3 separate regions of the Homo sapiens genome follow, and all the other regions are linked to region 1. Evidence: fine-mapped expression QTL. A gene starts in region 1. Each other region holds a variant in brackets. All regions are shown on one strand. Distances are from middle to middle. Region 1 holds the start of ZNF83 (zinc finger protein 83). Region 2 holds the start of LOC122539214 (Zinc finger protein LOC122539214). Region 3 holds the start of LOC105372452 (a long non-coding RNA gene).

Evidence for each region.
Region 2: its variant is fine-mapped to the expression of ZNF83 in skeletal muscle (GTEx, PIP above 0.99).
Region 3: its variant is fine-mapped to the expression of ZNF83 in fibroblasts (GTEx, PIP 0.91).

The regions. Positions count from the first base shown.
Region 1 is chr19:52,634,294-52,641,378 of GRCh38, reverse strand. It overlaps ZNF83 (zinc finger protein 83), which reads left to right and starts at 3,024. Exons shown (of 3, transcript NM_018300.4): 1 at 3,024-3,067; 2 at 6,226-6,313. LOC137778871 (a long non-coding RNA gene) reads right to left here. Exons shown (of 3, transcript NR_197425.1): 3 at 5,800-6,714. It also overlaps the pseudogene LOC124904757. RefSeq lists a silencer at 2,777-2,976 and enhancers at 3,187-3,306, 3,060-3,577, 3,578-4,096.
Region 2 is chr19:52,686,135-52,693,219 of GRCh38, reverse strand. It overlaps LOC122539214 (Zinc finger protein LOC122539214), which reads left to right and starts at 2,724. Exons shown (of 4, transcript NM_001396016.1): 1 at 2,724-2,777. It also overlaps a transcript of ZNF83 not described here. RefSeq lists a silencer at 2,552-2,761 and an enhancer at 3,055-3,590. The variant A/G (reference allele first, on the strand shown) is at 3,809.
Region 3 is chr19:52,741,932-52,749,016 of GRCh38, reverse strand. LOC105372452 (a long non-coding RNA gene) reads right to left here and starts at 4,277. Exons shown (of 2, transcript XR_936060.3): 1 at 4,191-4,277. The variant G/A (reference allele first, on the strand shown) is at 3,719.

The DNA of each region.
Region 1 (7,085 bases):
AATTATATACATACGTGAAACTTCCTAATATTTCACTTAGTATTGCTATTGCTATGTTCTTGAGGCAGACGCTCAGTCTGTCAGATAGATACATTACCAGAGCTTGGTGTCTTCCATATTTCTGCTTAGGACTCTGTGGACCATGAGTGTATAAACTTAAGCAGGAACCTAGGAGAGCTAGAGCGTGGGGGCGGTGCCTGGAACAAGACTGGGGCGGGGCAAGAGGGAGGAGGCCGCCTGGGGGCCAGGCCATACAATGGGAAAGGGCAGAACCAGAGGGTTATCGTCATCTTGGGGGCGGGGTCTGGAGGGGGTGTTGTTCTGAAGGGTGGGGGCCGGCAAGGGTCGGGTTCGGGCTCTCTCCTCAGCTGGGCCCCAGATGTCGCCTGCTGTCATCCTCTTGCCCGCCTGGACTAAATCCTCCGAGTTCTGATTGGTGGATTGGTTCTGATGTGCCGTGATATTACCCCTAATATCACAGGGATGTTTCCTGCCCATTTCAAGTTAGTGTTTCAGACAATCGAAGATAAAACAACATGTTGTAGTAGGACACCTGTACTGAACACTGAATCGTTTTTCCTCTTAAGTTGAAAATGGTTTTAATGCAAAGCGCCTTGTTTGAGCAGGCAGAGTCCTGCAGTCGGGGCGAACTCCCCCCTCAGTCTGGGGCAGCGCAGTGGGGAGGGCAGGGACCTCAGTAAAGGGGTGGACTGGGGCGCTGGTTGCAGAGAGGACTGACAATTAGAGTCAGTAGAACTGCTTGAACCCAGGAGGTGGAGGTTGCAGTGAGCTGAGATTGCACCACTGGGCGACAGAGCAATACTGCCTCTCAAAGAAAAACAAAAAAGAGTTTTCCTGTTAATAATTAGGAAGACTAAGCAGCCCCAGAGATAAGACCTCATGGGATCATTGTTACTTCTTATGGAGTGATAAAGTGACCTTCCTCGAATTGTATCAATCCATAACCAATCAAGTTGCTGCAACCTATGCACTGGGCTTGAATGAAAGCTGTCATGATTCTGCTAAAGATTCTCTGTCTTTCCCTGTGTGTGAAACCTTAACGTCTCTACTTTGGAACGCCGATCTCATTTATTTGGAGTTGGTGTTTCCAGGTGGCTTTCTTCAAGCTTTGTGTTCACATAAACTCAGTACTTAATCTTACATTCTAAATTTTATTATTTACTGCTGACGTCAGTTTCTGTCGGATTGTAGGCGCCTGACCAGAGAGGGCACGCGTCGCTATGTTGTAAAACTCACACTCGTCAAAAAGACATGGGTTAGGGTTTTCCCCCTCCCTCTGGATGAAGCTAATTAGCTGACACAGATGGTCACCTCCATTACCAAATAGAGCCAGGATGAACTATGTGTGACCAAGAGTGTTGTCAAGTCCTCTTCCCTGAGGACTGATTAGTGTTTATCTTGAAAACATGTACTCAATGGGTTGTATAGAACAGTGAAGTTTCCTTGTCTCTTTTCAACCTCTTAGCTGTTTGCCTCAATTTCCCATCACATTCTGGTTTAAGGCTTACTTATTAATAATGTGGTTTTTATTTCTTTCACTATTATCATCGTGAAGATGATTTCTCATTGGGGGGAAGATTTTTTTTGTTTTCCATTATATTTTCTCAAAATTTAAAGAGTAAAGAAATGAATATTTTTTGGGCCAGGAAGTGTGGCTTATGACTATAATCCCAGCACTTTCAGAGGCTGAGGCAGTCAGATCACTTGAAGTCAGAAGTTCGAGACCAGCCTAGCCAATATAGTGAAACCTCGTTTGTATCGAAAATACAAAAATTAGCCGGGCATGGTTGTGCGCGTCTGTAATGTCAACTACTCCGGAGGCTGAGACAGGAAAATCGGTTCAACCCAGGAGGCAGAGGCTGCAGTGAGCCCAGATCTCGCCACCGCATTCCAGCCTGGCCAAAAAAGAAAACTCTGCCTCAAAAAAAAAAAAAAAAAAAAATAGAAAAAACTAAATATATAAAAGAAAATAAGCCGGGCGCGGTGGCTCACACCTGTAATCCCAGCACTTTGGGAGGCCGAGGCGGGCGGATTACTTGAGGTCGGAAATTTGAGACCAACCTGACCAACATGGAGAAATCCCATCTCTACTAAAAATACAAAATTAGCAGGGCATGGTGGCACATCCCTGTGATCCCAGCTACTTGGGAGATAGAGGCATGAGAATCGATTGAACCTGGGAGACAGAGATCGCGCCATTGCACTCCAGCCTGGTCAACTAGAGCAAAACTCCATCTCAAGAAACAAAAAAAGAAACTGATAGATCTCTTACACAAATACGCTGGGACAACTAACTGGATATCCACGTGGAAAAGAATAATGTTGGATCCCTATGTAACATCATCAAAAATTTTATTATAAAAAAGAAAAGAGAGAGAGAGACGAGGAAGGGAGCCCTGCGGGAGGGGGTGTTACTTTGTCGCCCAGGCTGGCCTGAACTCCCAGGCTCGGCGATCCTCCCGCCGCTGCTTCCTGAATAGCTGGGACCTCAGGCTCCCACTCCCGCGCCCATATCCCAGCTGTGTTTAAGCCGCAGGTGGTGACCTCACCCATCCTTGGCCTGAGCACTCCATCCTGCATCTCAGGCAGTGGCCTGAGTCTCTAAAGCTGAGCACAGCGTGGACTCTCTCCCAAGTGAATGGAGAATAGAAAGGGAGAGGATTTCTATTCGGTTCTGTGGGCTATCAGCATGAAATTGTACCTTCCGCCCAGGCAGGGCTTTGCATTTCACATTCTAGTTTGCATCCCCGTTCCAGATAATTCCAGGGCTTTTGAATCATGCCTCAGCCTTCCTGGCCGGTCTCGCCTCCAAAACCCGAAAAATGCCTCTGCGCTGGGAACGATGCTGAGAGACTCACAGGTCCCGCCCTGGCCCCGCCCACTGCTGGTTCTAAAGGGGAAAGTCTCTCGGCTTCCCACCCCGCCCCTACCTCATCCAGGCCCCGCCCACCTCGCGGGCCCCGCCCAGACCTGGCTTCTGTACTGCGCGCGCACATGCGCGCAAACCCGGAAGCGGATTATGTGGAGTGAAAGTTACACCGTGGCGGTGAGTTTCGCTCTTCTATTAAGTCTGCGCTTACCAGGTCCCCGGCGCTGCTGTACCTGAGACGTGGGGTCCCCACAGACCTGGAAATTCTCTCCCTTCTTCCTTCACCCAGGACAAATTGAGACGTCCCCATGAGAGTCCGGATATCGCTTCCTTTTGGGTTTAAAGTCGCCCTGAGGCTGGGCTGTCCCCGGTCTTTCTGCTGTAGGGCGATGTATACACTTCCTGTCGCGTAGTTTTCCTGCTCAAAACTGTTTTCTGACTCCTCCCGCCCCTCGCTTTTTAAAGTCCTCACCCGAGAGCTGGATTCCCGCCCTGGGCGCCTCCCACCCTCGCCTTCGTAGGCCACTGGAGCGCAGCGCCAGGGCCCCAGTCCCAGGGAGGCCGCGTACTTTGCCTGGTCCTGGAATCCTGCAGACCCCAACCTTGTCTTAAGGCGCCGTCTCCCCCCCACCTCCCTCCTCGTGGCGGGCCCTGCTGCTCCACAGGTCTCTCCTCCACAGTCACCTCTTCCCCTGAACCCGCGTTGGGGAGGTACCCGGGGCCTGTCCTGTGACACGGGGTGTTCTTGCCTGCCCAGCTCCAGCCCCCGGAAAACGAGCTCCTCCGGGATGCAGGCGTCTTATCCAAACCCTCCTGTGATTGTGTCGGCCAAAGGCATTGGGAGACAGAGCAGTAGAAAAGCTGAGACAGAGAAAAGAATGAGAAAGACCCATAACAGAGGGCAAAGTAGAGGGTGGGTGATGGATTTGTCAAGAGACAGCAAAAGTGAAAAGAAAAAAAAAGAAAGCAGGAGGAGAAAAGTAACTGGAGAAACGTAGAGAAACCTAGATGTACAGAGAGATGAAGGACAGCAAGGTAGGGAGAGGGGCAGCAAAGAGGGAATCTCATCAGAGTGAGGGAGAGGAGGAGGGATTTGGAGCCAGGGCAGACAGAGCAGAGTGGTGCTGGTGGCAAGGAGAACAGAGGGAGAACCACAGCAGGGAGGACACCTGGGGATCTGTGGTTCCACATATTGGGGACAGGGGGTATAACAGGGAAGACGGAATTTAACAGGGAGAGCAGAGGATGCACAGAGATGGGAGAAGAGGCGGAAATATATCAAGATTGAGGACGATAGAACGATTGGGGAGAAGGAACAGCAAGAAGTTAGGTAAGTTGCGAGGATGGAGCAGAAGAGGTGGAAGAGAAGGAATAGAGGGAAGAAGGGGATAAACAGCAGGAGAGGAGAGGGGTACAAAATGAGGAGCAGAATGCCAGGTAAAAAGAAAAGAAAACAAGAGCTAGAGAGAGAAGGGGAGAATGAGAGATATGTACACAATTAGGGAGGGAAGCACAGTAATGAAGAAAGATGGGCTGGGCGCAGTGGCTTACGCCTGTAATCCCAGCACTTTAGGAGACTGAGGCAAGAAGATTGCTTGAGTACAGGAGTTCGAGTCTAGCTTGGGCAACATAGTGAGACCCCCATCTCTACCAAAAAAAAAAAAAAACAACCGGGCATGATAGTGTGCACCTGTAATCCCAGCTACTCTGAAGGCCGAGGCAGAAGGATCACTTGAACCCAGGAGGTCCAGGCTGCAGTGAGCCGAGATCATGTCACTGCACTCCAGCCTGGTCAACAGAGCAAGACCCTGTCTCAAAAGAAAAAAAGGGGCGGAGGACTTTGGGTTTAGATGAGTGGGTGAGTTCATTGGATACGATTAGTTGTGACATTTGACTTCTTTGTATATAATCTAGTAACTTAAAACTGCTTAAATTATACAGATGAGATTGAGAATTTTAAGAATCCTATCTATAAGACATGTACATTCTATGAATGTTGGCCTCAGAGGTTAGCTTCCACTTGGAATCCCTATTCAGCTACAGTGGAGTGACTTATTCACTTGTGAGTCACTCTGTTCCCTTTTCCCAGAGTGGGGTAGGGAGTGGGGCAGTGAAGTGAGAAAAAAATCCCTTTCTGTTAACACATAATTTTTAACTTAATTAATTAACTAACATTAAGAGACAGGGTCTGGCCAATTGCCTAGGCTGGAATGCAGTGGCATGATCTTTAACTGCAGCCTGGTCCTCCTGGGCTCAAGTAATCCTCCTACGTCAGCTTCCTAAGTAGCTGGGACCACAGTGATGAGCCACCAAGAAGCCCGGCTAGTTTTCTTTTTCTTTCTTTTTTTTTTTTTTGTAGAAACGAGGTTTCACTGTGTTTCCCAGGCTAGTCTCAAAATCCTGGGCTCAAAGTATCCTCCTGCCTTGGCCGCCCAGAGTACTGAGATTACAGGAAAGAGCCACCGCACGTGGTCTACATAGTTTTTTTTTTTTTTTGAGTTGGAATTTCCCTGTTGTTTCCCAGGCTGGAGTGCAGTGGCGTGATTTCGGCTCACCACAATCTCAGCTTCCCAGATTCATGCGATTCTCTTGCTTCAGCCTCCCAACTAGCTGGGATTACAGACGCCCACCAAGCCCAGCTACTTTTTGTATTTTTAGTAGAGATGGAGTTTCACCATGTAGCCCAGGCTACTCTCGAACTCCTGACGTCAAACAATCTGCCCACCTTGGCCTTTCAGAGTGCTAGTATTACAGGCATGAGCCACTGTGGCCAGCCCAATTTTTGTATTTCTAGTAGAGGGTTTCAACATGTTGGCAGGCTGGTCTCTAATTCCTGAGCTTAAGCGATTCTGTCTCCTCAGCTTCCTAAGTAGCTGGGAACATAGACACACAGACGTGTACCTTCATGCCTGGCTATGTTTTTGTATTTTTGGCAAAGATGGGGTTTCACCATGTTGCCCAGGCTGATCTCAAACCCCTGAGATTAAGCGATCCACCTGCCTCAGCCTCCCAGAGTGCTGGGATGACAGGCATGAGCCACTGCACCCAGTTTCTGCATGGGGTTTGGTCAGGGCTGGGTCTGCGCCCTGAAGAGGAGCTCATTCCAGCCCAGCTCCCCACTGCTGCAGCGTGTGTGGACTCCTCCAGAAGGGTGTGGTGTGGGCTTCTCCAGAAGGGTGCGGGAGTTTTCCTGTAGGAGTTTATCGTCTCTGGTGCAGTGGGCAGCAGAGGGGACCATATTTCCTCAGGGTGAGGTCTCCTTTGTATGTGTTGTTATGTTACAGGAATGGGGTGTATTGATTCTGAGCAATAAACAACATATTTTTAACATTCAGGATTGACTTCTAAGGACTCTTGGTACATGAGGAAGAAACCCGGAAGGGGAAGAGGAAAGCAAAGGCGTCAGGAATGGTTCTTCCTCAGGTGAGATGATATTCTCGGTGGATTGTTCTGTCTCTTTCCTTTCAGAAACCCTGGGCCTTGGAGTTGGGAATCTTCTCTGGGTCTCAAGAAGTGTCCTGCCTGACAGGTTTGCTCACACTCACCCATGCCTTCCCTCAGTCCCTCTCATCTCACTTAGATTCCATCTCTTGTGACCCAATCACATGAACTTGGGAAGAGGCTGCACTGGGCATGGTCCTGGTAAGGGCCCACACCCAGACATGGATGGAGACGGGGTGAGGGTCCCGTGGTGTCAGTGCTGTTGGGCAGCAGGGATTGTTCAGGGGCCACATCTGGATGCTCTGTCAACTCTCTGTGGACCAGGATTAGAGCAGCTGCCAATGGAAGTCACGTATTAATGTCCACGAAGTATGTGGTAAATTCTAGAAAAGGAGACAAATAAGGGGAAATCTTTTCTCCCTGATTTTATACTATATTTTTAGGTAATTTAGTGAGTTACTTTGTTTCTGACTCCAAAAATCTTACTAATTAGAATGGAAAGTTCATACACAGACATGCATGATACAAGGTGTTTTATTCCATCATTATTTTAAGAATAGGAAATCAACCTGAATAATAGCAGGAGATTCTTTAAACCATTCTTAGCACATTAAGCTCGTGGAGATTGTGGTGTTAAGAGGCTTCTGAAACAGGTGTTTTTGGTAAAAATAGTTACTATTTTTCTCAACTATGGGAGAAGCACTTTTGTATCCTAGAGGATGGAGCCATATTCTCATTCCACCTATTATTATTA
Region 2 (7,085 bases), 52 kb before region 1:
GGAGCTCACCACCACACCCTGTTAATCTTTGTATTTTTAGTAGAGACAAGGTTTCACCACATTGGCCAGGTTGGTCTCCAAACTCCTGAGCTCAAGTGATCCACCCACCTTGTCCTCCCAAAGTCCTGGTGTGAGCCACCTCACCCATCCCCTCTTCACTAATTTTTAATTTACCTAATGAATTCTGATTTTGAACCCATGTATTGCGTTTTTTCATTTAGTTACTCTATTTTTAGCCCAAGAGTTTCTGTGTAGTTCTTCATAGTTTCTGTATGTTGGTTGACCTTTGAATTTTCTGCATGCATTGCTTTTATAGTTTCTTGAAGCTGTCTCTTATTTCAATGCATTTCCAACTTTTTGGTGGATGTGGGTAACGGGGTCTCACTATGTCCCCCAGGCTGGAGGGCAGTGGTGCGATCTTGAGTCACTTCAACCTCTGCTCTCCAGGGTCAAGCAATCCTCCCACCTCAGCCTGGTGAGTAACTGTGGATGTGTCCTCTCTAGGTTTTTGCTTCTCATCTCTGAACTGAAGTTGATTTAAGTGTGTGTGGATGTGGTCTGAAGTGTGCAGGAGAGATTAATGGAGAAGCCCAACATGGTGAAACCCAGTATCTACTAAAAACAGAAAACAATTAGCCAGGCGTGGTCGCACTGGCCTGTAATCGCAGCTACCTGGCTGACTGGGGCAGGAGAACTGCTTGAACCCGGGAGGTGGAGGTTGCAGTGAGCCGAGATAGTGCCAGTACACTCCAGCCTGGGTGACAGAGCTAGACGCTGTCTGAAAAAATGACAGCAACAACAAACAAACAACTAAAAAAAAAAAGGTTATTCTGTAAATAATTAGGAAGACTAAGCAGCCCCAGAGTTAAGACCTTTTGGCATCATTGTCCCTTCTTATGGAGTGATAAAGTAACCTTCCTTGAAGTGTATCAATCCATCACCAGTCAAGTTGCTGCACCCTAGGCACTGGTCTTGAATGGAAAATGTGATTCTGGTAAAGCTTCTCTGTCTTTTCCTATGTGTGTAAAATCTTAACGTCTCCACCTGAGAACGCTGATCCTATTCATTTGAAGTTGATGTTTCCAGGTGGCTATTTCCAAGCTTTGTGTTCAAACAAACTCTGCACTTAATCATATATTCTAAATTTTATTATTTACCTCTGACATCAGTGTCTGTCGTATTGTAGGAGTCTCACCAGAGAGGGCACCTGTCCCCATGTTGTGAAACTCACACTTGTCAAAAAGACATGGGTTAGGGTTTTTCCCCCTCCCTCGGGATGAAGCTAATTAGCTGACACAGATGGTCACCTCCATTACCAAGTAAAGCCAGGATGAAGTATGTGTGACCCAAGGGGTTGTCAAATCCCCTTCCCTGAGGACTGATTAGTGTTTATCTTGAAAACATGTGCTTAATGGGTTGTATAGAACAGTGACATTTCTTTCTCTCTTTTCAACCTCATAGCTGTTTGCCTCTATTTCCCATCACATTTGAGTCTAAGGTTCTTTATTAAAATGGTTTTTATTTATTTCTCTGTTGTCGTGGAGATAATTACCCATTTGGGGGAAGATTTTCTTTGTTTTCAATTATATTTTCTCAACGTTTAAACAGTAAAGAGCATTCCTTAGGCTATGCAAGGTAGCCCACGCCTGTAGTCCCAGCACTTTAGGAGGCCGAGGCAGGTAGATTACTTGAAGTTCGGAGTTTGAGACCAGCCTGGCCAACATGGTGAAAGCCCGCCTCTATCAAAAATACAAAAATTAGCCGGGCATGGTCGCTCGTGCCTCTAATACCAGTAATACTGTAATACTCCGGAGGCTGAGGCAGGAGAATCGCTTCAACCCAGGAGGCAGAGGTCGCAGTGAGCAGAGATCACGCCCCTTCACGCCAGCCTGGGCGACAGAGGGAGACTCCCTCAAAGAAAAAGAAAAGAAAAACGTGAAAAAAAAGTAATAGATTTCTTCCACAAATGTGCTGGAACAACTAACTGGATATCCACACGGAACAGAATAATGTTGGATCCCTATGTCACACCATCAAAAATTTTATTTAAAAAGGTTTAAAAAGCGAGAGAGAGAGAGAGAGAGAGAGACGGAGAGAGAGGGAGACAAGGAAGGTGGCCTTGCGGGAGGGGGTGTTACTTTGTCGCCCAGGCTGGCCTGGACCCCAGGGCTCAGCGATCTTCCTGCTCCTACTTCCTGAGTAGCTGGGACCTCAGGCTCCCGCCTTCGCGCCTGCACCCCTGCTGTGTTTAAGCAGCAGGTGGTGACCTCACTCCTCCCTGGCCTGAGCACTCCGTCCCGCACCCCAGGCAGTGGCTTTAGGGAAGTCTCTGAAGCTGAGCACAGGGCGGACCCTCCCTCCCTTGTGAATGGAGAATAGAAAGGGAGAGGAGTTCTGTTCTGTTCTGTGGGCCGTCAGCATGAAATCCTATGTTCCGCCCTGGCAGGGCTTTGCATTTCACATTCTAGTTTGCATCCCCGTTCCAGAAAATTCCAGGGCTTTTGAATCATGCCTCATACTTCCTGGCCGCTGTCGCCTCCCAAACCCGAAAAACAGAGGCGCTGGGAGCCAGGATGTGAGACACACAGGTCCCGCCCCGGCCCCGCCCTCTGCCGGTTCTAAACCGCAAAGTCTCTCTGCTTCGCGCCCCGCCGCCACCCGGCCCAGGCCCCGCCCACCACCTCGCGGGGCCCGCCGAGGCCTGGCTTCTGTCCTGCGCGCGCAGATTCTCGCAAATCTGGAAGCGGATCGCGTGGAGTGACGGTCACACCGCGGCGGTGAGTTTCGCTGTTTTGTATTAAGTCTGCATTTCCCAGGTCCTCAGCGTTTCTGTCCCTCGGACCTAGGGTCCCCACAGATCTGGAACTTCTCTCCCGTCTTCACCCAGAGCAAATAGAGACATCCCCGTGAGAGTCTGGAAGTCGCTTCCTTTTGGGTCTAAAGTCGCCCTGAGGTTGGTCCCATCCCCTGTCTTTCTGCTCTAGGGCAATGTATACACTTCCTATCGCGTAGTTGTTGTTGTTTTTTTTTTTTTTTTCTCAAAATCATTTTCAGACTCCTCCCGCCCCGCGCTTTTTAACGTCCTCACCCGCGAAGTGGATTCCCGCCGTGGGCACCTCCCAGCCTTGCCCTTGTCGGCCTCTGAAGCGCAGCGCCGCGGCCCCTGTCCCGGGGAGGCCGTGTCCTCTGCCTAGTCCTGGGATCCTGCAGACCCCACCCTTGTCCTCAGGCGCCGTCGCCCCCCACCTCCCTCCTCGTGCCGGGCCCTGCTGCTCCCCAGGTCTCTCCTCCGCAGTCACCGCTTCTCCTGAGCCCGCGTTGGGGAGGTGCCCGGGGCCTGTCCTGTGACACGGGGTGTTCTTGCCTGCCCAGTTCCAGCCCCTGGAAAATAAGCTCCTCCGGGATGCAGGCGTCTTACTCCAAACCCTCCTGTGATTGTGTGGGCCAAAGGGATCAGGAGACGGACAGAGAGCAGTGGAAAACCTGAGACAGAGAAAAGAAGAATGAGAAAGAGCCATAAGAGATGGCAAAGTAGAGGATGGGTGAGGGATTTGCCAAGAGACAGCAAAAGTGAAAAGAAAACGATAAGAAAGCAGGAGGAGAAAAGCAAGTGCAGAAATGTAGAGAAAAGCTGGATGTACAGAGACATGAAGGACAGCAAGGTAGGGAGAGGGGCAGCAAAGAGGGAGGCTCATCAGGGTGAGGGAGAGGAGGAGGGATTTGGAGCCAGGGCAGACAGAGCAGAGTGGTGCTGGTGGCAAGGAGAACAGAGGGAGAAGCACAGCAGGGAGGACACCTGGGGATCTGG[A/G]GTGCTAGAGAGTGGGGATGAGGGTATAACAGGGAAGAGAGAATGTAACAGGGAGAGCAGAGGAGGCGCTGAGATGGGAGAAGAGGCGGAAATATTTGTGTTAGGGGAAACTGAAGAATGGAGAGACCAATATGAGAGAAACAGAATTGTTTATTTTAGGTACGCACTGGCTCAGTGGATTCATATCCAAAAAGCTGAGCACTGAACAAAGACAGAGCAGGGTTTTTATAAGTGGCCTTACAAAAGCAAAACAAAAGCAGTTAATTATACAGTGACAGGTTGTGTAATCTATAGCATAACATATCTTGTGACCTTGGGTTGCCGGTGGCCTTGTAGCTGCATCAAAGGAAAAACAAGAACTGACTAAATACAGACATTTGTAAAACATAATAATGCTTAAGAAGCCTGGAAAAAGAGTAACAGTAAAATAATCTCTCTCTTTTTTTTTTTTTTTTTTTTTTCCTTCAACCTTGCTCTGGAAGGTGGGGGTGTCTGGAGCCCATTCATTTAGACTTGGCTATTCGGACAGCGTTATCCTGTAACCGTTCTTGATGTGAGCTTGACAGGCAGAGGAAAACTTGTTCTTTTCTTTTTATTTTTAAACCTTGCCTTGCCACATTGTGGGCCTTAGCTTTTACTTTTCTTGGAGTGAATAAATGCAGTACTTATTATTTTTAAATTTCTGTCCATATAGAGATAGAGGATGATCAAAAGATTGGGGAGAAGAGCAGCAAGATGTTAGATAAGTTACAAGGATGGAGCAGAAGAGGTGGAAGAGAAGGAATAGAGTGAAGAAGGGGATAAACAGCAGGAGAGGAGAGAGGTACAAAATGAGGAGCAGAACCCCGGGGGAAAATAAAACAAGAGCTAGAGAGAGAAGGGGAGAATGAGAGATACGTACAGAATCAGGGAAGGAAGCAAAGTAATGAAGAAAGAGAGGCTGGGTACAGTGGTTCATGCCTGTAATCCCAGAACTTTAGAAGACTGAGGCAGGGGGATTGCTTGAGTCCAGGAGTTCTAGACCAGCCTGCACAACATAGTGAGATCCTTATCTCTGCCAAAAAAAAAAAAAAATTAATCGGGTATGATGGTGCGCACCTGTAATCCCAGCTACTCTGGAGGCCAAGGGAGGAGGATCACTTGAGCTCGGGAGGTCCAGGCTGCAGTGAGCCAAGATCATGCCACTGCACTGCAGCCTGGTCAACAGAGTGAGACCCTGTTACCAAAGAAAAGAAGGGGCAGGGGGACTTTGGGATCAGATGAGTAGGTGAGTTTATTGGCTATGATTAGTTGTGACATGTTGACTTCTGTGTATATAATCTAATAATTTAAAACTTGATTAAATTATAAAGATGAGATTGAGAATTTTAAAATTCCTGTCTATGAGACATGTACATTCTGTAAATCTTGGCATCAGAGGTTAGCTTCCAGTTGGAATCCCTATTCAGCCAGAGAGCAGTGACTTATTGAGTTGGAAGTTACTCTCTTCCCTTTTCCCAGGGTGGGGTAGGACGTGGGGCAGTGAAGTGCAACAAAAATCACTTTCTGTTATTACACAATACTTTTAATTTAATTAATTAATATTTTGAGACAGGGTCTGGCTGTATCACTCGGGCTGGAGTGCAGTGGCGTGATCTCCTCTAACTGCAGCCTTGGCCCCCTGGGGTCAAGTGATCCTCCTACCTCAGCCTCCTGAGTAGTTGGGACCTCAGACATGAGCCACCAAGCCCGGCTAGTTATATATATATATACATTATATATATATATATATATATATACATTATATATATATATACACATTATATATATATACATTATATATATATATATATAAAATTTATATATATATAAAATTTACACATATAATTTATATATATAATTTATATATAAAATTTATATATAATTTATATATCTATATAAATTATAATTTATATAGATATATAAATTATAATTTATATTATAATTTATATAGCTATATAAATTATAATTTATATTATAATTTATATAGCTATATAAATTATATATATATAAATTATAATTTATATTATAATTTATATAGCTATATAAATTATATATCTATATATATAATTGTAAAACGGGGTTTTAAATTCCCAAGCTGGTCTCAAAATCCTGGGCTCAAAGGATCCTCCTGCTTTGACCTCCCAAAGTACTGGGATTACAGGGTTGAGGCACTGCGCCTGGCCTACATAGTACTTTTTTTTTTTTTTTTGAGATGGAGTTTTACTCTTGTTGCTCAGGCTGGAGGGCAATGTTGCAATCTCAGCTTAGTGCAACCTCTGCTTTCTGGGTTCAAGCAATTCTCCTGCCTTAGCCTCCTGAGTAGTTGGGATTACAGGCATGCGCCACCACTCTGGGCCAATTTTGTATTTTTAGTAGAGACAGGGTTTCTCCATGTTAGAGAGGCTGGTCTCAAACTCCTGACCTCAGGTGATCTGCTCACCTCGATCTCCCAAAGTGCTGGGATTACAGATGTGAGCCACTGCACCCAGCCCATAGTACTTTCTAAAATGGACATCAAAGCCAGGTGTGGTATCTCATGCCTGTAATCCCAGCACTTTGGGAGACCGAGGTGAGAGAATCACGTAAGGTCAGGAGTTCAAGAGCAGCCTGGCCAACATGGTGAAACGCCGTCTCTATGAAAAATACAAAACTTAGCCAGGCATGGTGGCGTGCACCTGTAGTTCCAGCTGCCCAGGAAGATGAGGTACACAATCACTTGAACCTGGGAGGTAGAGGTTGCAGTGAGCTGAAATCATGTTGCTGCACTGCAGCCTGGGTGGCATAGCGAGTCTCCATCTCAGAAAAACAAACAAACAAAAAATAAAAAATAAAAGGGGTATCAAAAGTGCTTTTGTTCTTGTTGTGTAATAGATTTCTTTTTTTTTTTCTTTCTGGTTTCTCATTTATTTATATATATATATATATATATATGTAATTTTTTTGCAGTTGGAGTTTGAGAAAAATCTTAGTTTTAAGAGTATCTTTTTTAATACTTAATCACTTCTGAAAGATGGCTTTGTGGCATCCTATAACCAGCTCACATCATTCCTTTCTGTACATGTATATGTTCCAGTTAAGTTCCCGTTGACCTCAGAGTTTGTTAGATTTTTTTTTAAAACAATTTAAAAATAGTTTCGGTTTGAAATTAGTTGCATCCAGTTCAGATCGAGGTCTGCATGCTTTCTAGTTTTTATTATTTATTGGAAAACTTTGGTACCTCATACAGAAGTTTGATTGTTTCAGTGTGTACCTGGTA
Region 3 (7,085 bases), 110 kb before region 1:
GAAGAAGAGACAGGGACAGAATCCCAGAAAGGAACGGAAAGTTCACATTGTAAATATGTAGCAGAGTCTGTAATGGGTCGGTCAAAGCAAAATGTTGACTACAATCAATTACAAGAGGTAATATATTCTGAAACATTAAAGTTAAAAGAAAAAGGTCCAGAATCATCGGGGTCATAGGGGCTAAAACCACGATGGCCACCTCCTCCTCAGCCAAGTGAGTGCTGGGGGAGGGAGCCTGAAACTAGGCTCACTGCAACTTGGCTCGCTGTGCCCATTATTGCCCAACTTACAGTTCATTATGGTGAAGGAGCAATTCAGACTTGCCTTGCAGCATCCTGTCTGAGTCAAACAGTGGCTGCTCCCTAAGGAAAATTTGGGGGCGCTACATAAAATAGTTAAAAAACTACTTAAAAAGGACACGTTTCACCCACTTTCTCTCCTTAGAATTCTCCTGTGTTTGTAATTCAGAAAAAATCCAGCAGATGGTGTATGTTAACTGACTTAAGAGCCGTAAATGCCATCATTCAACCCATGGGGCCTCTTCAACTCGGGTTGTCCTCTCTGGTCATGATCCCAAAAGACTGGCCTTTAATTATAATTGATCTAAAGGATTGCTTTTTTACCATTTTTCTGGTGGAGAAAGATTTTGAAAAATTTGCCTTTACTATACCAGCCATAAATTATAAGGAACCAGCCACCAGGTCTCAGTGGAAAGTGTTACCTCAGGGAATGCTTAATAGTCCAACTATTTGTCAGACTTTCGTAGGTCAAGCTCTTCAACCAGTTAGAGATAAGTTTTCAGACTGTTATATCATTCATTATGTTGATGATATTTTGTGTGCTGCAGAAACAAGAGACAAATTAACTGACTGTTACACATTTCTGCAAGCAGAGGTTGCCAACGCAAGACTGGCAATAGCATCTGATAAGATTCAAACCTCTACTCCTTTTCATTATTTAGAGATGCAGATAGAAAATAGAAAAATTAAGCCACAAAAAGTAGAAATAAGAAAAGACACATTAAAAACATTAAATGACTTTCAAAACTTGCTAGGAGATATTAATTACATTCAGCCAACTCTAGGCATTCCTACTTATGCCATGTCAAATTTGTTCTCTATCTTAAGAGGGGACCCAGACTTAAATAGTAAAAGAATATTAACCCCAGAGGCAACAAAAAAAATTAAGTTAGTAAAAGAAAAAAATCAGTCAGCACAAAGGTCCCTTAACCCCACTCCAACTTTTGATTTTTGCTACTGCACATTCTCCAACAGACATCATTGTTCAAAATACTGATCTTGTGGAGTGGTCATTCCTTCCTCACAGTACAATTAAGACTTTTACATTGTTCTTGGATCAAATAGCTACATTAATTGGTCAGGCAAGATTACAAATAATAAAATTGTGTGAAAATGACGCAGACAAAATAGTTGTTCCTTTAAACAAGGAACAGGTTAGACAAGCCTTTATCAATTCTGATGCATGGCAGATTGGTCTTACTAATTTTGTGGGAATTATTGATAATCATTACCCAAAAACAAAAATCTTCCAGTTTTTAAAATTGACTACTTGGATTTTACCTAAAATTACCAGACATAAACCTTTGGAAAATGCTCTGACAGTGTTTACTGATGCTTCCAGCAATAGAAAAGCAGCTTACACAGGGCCAAAACAGCGAGTCATCAAAACTCAATATCAATCGGCTCAAAGAGCAGAGTTGGTTGCAGTCATTACAGTGTTATAAGACTTTGATCAACCTATTAATATTGTATCAGATTCTGCATATGTAGCGCAGGCTACAAGGGATGTTGAGACAGCTCTAATTAAATATAGCATAGATGATCAGTTAAACGAGCTGTTCAGTTTATTACAACAAACTGAAAAAAAAATTTCCCATTTCATATTACTCATATTTTAGCACACACTAATTTACCAGGGCCTTTAGCTAAAGCAAATGAACAAGCTGACTTACTGGTACCATCTGCATTCATAAAAGCACAAGAACTTCATGCTTTGACTCATGTAAATGCAGCAGGATTAAAAAACAAATTTGATGTCACATGAAAACAGGCAAAAGATATTGTACAACATTGCACCCAGTGTCAAGTCCTACACCTGCCCACTCAAGAGGCAGGAGTTAATCCCAGAAGTCTATGTCCTAATGCATTATGGCAAATAGATGTCACACATGTACCTTCATTTAAAAGATTATGATGTGTCCGTGTAACAGTTGGTACTTATTCACATTTCATGTGGGCAACTTGCCAGACAGGAGAAAGTACTTCCCATGTGAAAAAACATTTATTATCTTGTTTTGCTGTCATGGGAGTTCCAGAAAAAAATCAAAACTGACAATGCACCTGGATACTATAGTAAAGCTTTCCAAAAATTCTGAAATCAGTAGAAAATTACACACAAAACAGGAATTCCCTATAATTCCCAAGGACAGGCCATAGTTAAAAAAACTAATAGAACACTCAAAACTCAGTTAAAGAGAAGGGGGAGACAGTAAGGAGTGTACCACTCCTCAGATGCAACTTAATCTAGCACTCTATACTTTAAATGTTTTAAACACTTATAGAAATCAGACTACTACCTCTGCAAAACAACATCTTACTGGTAAAAAGAACAGCCTACGTGAAGGAAAACTGATTTGATAAAAAGACAACAACAATAAGACATGAGAAATAGGGAAGGTGGTAACGTGGGGGAGAGGTTTTGCTTGTGTTTCACCAGGAGAAAATCAGCTTCCTGTTTAGATACCCACTAGACATTTAAAGTTCTACAATGAACCCATTAGAGATGCAAACAAACAAAAAAAAAAGCGCCTCCACAGAGACGGAAACACCGCAATCGAGCACCATTGACTCACAAGATAAACAAAATGGTGATGTCAAAAAAACAGATGAAGTTGCCATCCACCACGAAGGCGGAGCTGCCAACTTGGGCACAATTTAAAAGCTGACACAGTTAGCTTAAAAAAGCCTAGAGAACACAAAGGTGACACAAACTCCAGAGAACACGCTGCTTGCAGCTTTGATGATTGTATCAACGGTGGTAAGTCTCCCCACGCCTGCAGGAGCAGCTGCAGCTAATTATACCTACTGGGCCTATGTGCCTTTCCCGCCCTTAATTCGGGCAGTCTCATGGATGGATAATCCTATTGAAGTATACGTTAATAATAGTGTATGGGTACCTGGCCCCACAGATGATCGTTGCCCTGCCAAACCTGAGGAAGAAGGAATGATGATAAATATTTCCACTGGGTATCATTATCCTCCTATTTGCCTCGGGAGAGCACCAGGATGTTTAATGCCTGCAGTCAAAAATTGGTTGGTAGAAGTACCTACTGTCGGTACCACCAGTAGATTCACTAATCACGCGGTAAGTGGAATGTCACTCAGGCCACAGGTAAATTATTTACAAGACTTTTCTTATCAAAGATCATTAAAATTTAGGCCTAAAGGAAAGCCTTACCCCCAAAAAATCCCAAAGGATCAAAAGACACAAAAGTTTTAGTTTGGGAAGAATGTGTGGCCAATAGTGCGGTGATATTACAAAATGATAAATTCGGAACTATTATAGATTGGGCACCTCGAGGTCAATTCTACCACAATTGCACAGGACAAACTCAGTCATGTCCCAGTGCAGAAGTGAGTCCAGCTGTTAACAGTGACTTAACAAAAAGTTTAGCCAAACATAAGCACAAAAAATTGCC[G/A]TCTTTCTACCCTTGGGAATGGGGAGAAAAAAAAATCTCTACTCCAAGAACAAAGATAATAAGTTCTGTTTCTGGTCCTGAACATCCAAAATTATAGAGTCTTACTGTGGCCTCATACCGCATTAAAATTTGGTCTGGAAATCAAGCTATAGAAACAAGAGATCGTAAGCCATTTTATACTATCGACCTAAATTCCAGTCTAACAGTTCCTTTGCAAAGTTGTGTAAAGCCCCCTTATATGCTAGTTGTAGGAAATATAGTTATTAAACCAGACTCCCTTGTTGCCCATGTTGGTCTCAAACTTCTGGGCTCAAATGACCTGCCTGCCTCAACTTCCCAAAGTGCTGGGATTACCCAGCTGGGCCACGACTCCCGTCTGATCTTGCAATTTTCCAGAGGAGGAAGACCAAGGCAGCCTATTGGCCCTTCCAGGCCATCTCGTGGGAGTCAGCCACACCTATTTTCTACTCACCTCAGAGCTTCTCAGGATAACTTGGTGAAATGTCTCCCGTTGTGAGCCTCAGTGAGCCCCCCTTAACATAGAGGTGAGGAATAAGACTGGAAAAGCTCAGTCACAGTGACAGTGACCCCTGAAATGACTGGCAAAATACAGTGTGTGGCTTTTCTTCTCGAGAGGTTAGTGCTCAGTTTGTTTGTTTGTTTGTTTGTTTGTTTTTGAGACTGACTCTCGCCCTGTGGCCCAGGCTGGAGTGCAGTGGTGCGATCTCGGCTCACTGCAACCTCCACCTCCCGGGTTCAAGCGATTCTCCTGCCTCAGCCTCTCGAATAGCTGGGATCAGAGTTGGTTTTCAATATTCTTTTGGGTTGTGGGAGAAAAATGTTTGAAGACCTTGTCCCTATGGATCTGTGCCCCCAGGACCTCTCTGACCTCATCTATCTGTGCCCTCCTTTCTTCCACTGCTCCACCCACACGGGCCACTTTCCTCTTCCTGGGGCTGAGATTGCTCCTGTCTCAGGGCCTTTGCTTGAGCTGTCCCTCTGCCTAGGACTCTCTGTCCCCTCAGCTGCAAGTGACAAGCATCATTTCTTCCCTAGGTGTTTGTTCTGGTATCACCTTCTGTGTGGAAACCTTTGTGATCTCACACAGATCCGCATTTGACATTGCAGCTGTGAGCCCAGGACTTCTCAGACAGATCTCAGTTAATTTAGAAAGTTTATTTCACCAAGGTTGAGGACACACCCGTGGCACAGCCTCAGGAATTCCTGATGACATGTGCCCCAGGTGGACGGGGCACAGCTTAATTTTATACACTTTAGGGAGACACCAGTCAATATAGTAACAAGTACGTTGGTTTGGTCTGGAAAGGCAGGACAACTTTAAACAAAGCCAGGGAGACTTGAACTTGAAGCAGGGAGGGGGCTTCCAGGTCACAGATAAGTGAGGCACAAATGGTTGCGATCTTTTGAGGTTCTTTTTTTCTTTTGAGATGAAGTCTTGCTCTGTGGCCCAGGCTGGAGTGCAATGGCAGGATCTTGACTCACTCCAACCTCTGCCTCCTGCATTCAGGTGATTCTCCTGCCTCAGCTTCCCAAGTAGCTGGGACTACAGGTGCATGCCACCATGCTCAGATAACTTTTGTATTTTTAGTAGAGATGTTTCACCATGTTGGCCGGGCTAGTCTTGAACCCTTCACCCCAAGTGATCTGCCTGCCTTGGCCTCCCAAAGTGCTGGGATTACAGTCCTGAGGCACTGTGCTGGGTCCTTCTTTTGAGTTTCTGATTAGCGTTGCCAAAGGAGGCACTCAGATAAGCATGTATGTCAGGGAGCAGAGTGGTGACTTTGAATAGAAGGTGAGTCTGGTTTTCTAAGCAGTACCTAGCTTGACTTTTCCCTTTTGCTTAGTGATTTGGGGTCCCCAAATTTATTTTCCTTTCACACAGCCCAACCCTCACACCACCTCTGGTCTATCTTGCCTGTTCTGTGTGATTACTTTTGTGCCTTTGTCATCCACTCTCTGGATCCTAGTGAGCACAAGGCCCCAAGGGGAGGGCGGAGCAAGAACTTGGGGCTGTGCTGGGCTCGCCCCATCTGAGTGGAGCTCAACCCTGGCTTCACATTAGAGTGCAGAGCATTTTGCAAATAGAGCTTTTGTGTTGCTTTAGCAGGGATTCTTATTCTGATGGGTTGGAACCCACCCTCAGTAATACCTGCAGTGGCGCAGGTGCTTGTCATCTGTGTGCAGCATTGAGCATGGAAGCTCTGTGTCCTCCATTTCTGAGTGCTGAGCTCAGCCTGTGATCCACAGAGAGTGAGGGGCTGTCCTCCAGATGGGGATTGATGAGGGATGAGGGACGAGTCTGTGCCGAGGGGAGATCAATCCAGCCCAGCTCCCCCCCGCCCCCCCGTTACCTCGTATGTGGGTGTTTTCTAGGAGGGGAGTGAGATCTGAAGACCTGGGTCAAATATACACTTGTAGGTCTTCCTGTGGGACTTTCTTATCTCTGCATGATCTCTGGTGCAGTGGGAAGCAGACGACCATCTTTCTACGGGTGAAATCTCTCCTGTCTGTGGGTTTTTGCCCCAGGAAGGGAATGAGTCATTTCTAACATGAAGTCTCATATTTTTTTTTGTGGGGAGAAGAAAGAGAGATCAGATTGTTACTGTGTCTATATAGAAAAGGAAGACATAAGAAACTCCATTTTGATCTGTATGAAGCAAAACTGTTCTGCTTTGAGATACTATAAATCTGTAAATTTAGCCCCAACCCTGTGCTCACGGAAACATGTGCTGTATTGAATCAAGGTTTAATGGATTTAGGGCTGTGTGGGCTGTGCCTTGTTAACAGTATTTTTGCATGCAGTATGCTTTGTAAAAGTCATGCCATTCTCCATTCTCTATTAACCAGGGACACAATGCACTGCGGAAAGCCACAGGGACCTCTGCCCAAGTAAGCCTGGGTATTGTCCAAGGTTTCCACCCACTGAGACAGCCTGAGATATGGTCTTGTGGGAAAGGAAAGACCTTATATCCCCCAGCCCAACACCAGTGAAGGGTCTGTGCTGAGGAGGATTAGTGAAAGAGGGAGGCCTCTTTTCAATTGAGATAAGAGGAAGGCATCTGTCTCCTGCTCGTCCTGGGAATGGAATGTCTAGGTGTAAAGCTGACCATTCTTTGTATTCTGAGATAGGAGAAAACTGCCCTGTGGCTGGAGGTGAGATATGCTGGCAGCAATACTGCTCTGTGACTCTTTGCTACGCTGAGATGTTTGTGTAAAGTGAAACATAAATCTGGCCTACGTGCACATCCAGTGAAGGGCGCCAGCCCCTCCACACCTGTGAGTATTTCTCATCAGGTGGGACGAGAGACAGAGAAAAGAAATAAGACACAGAGACAAAGTATAGGGA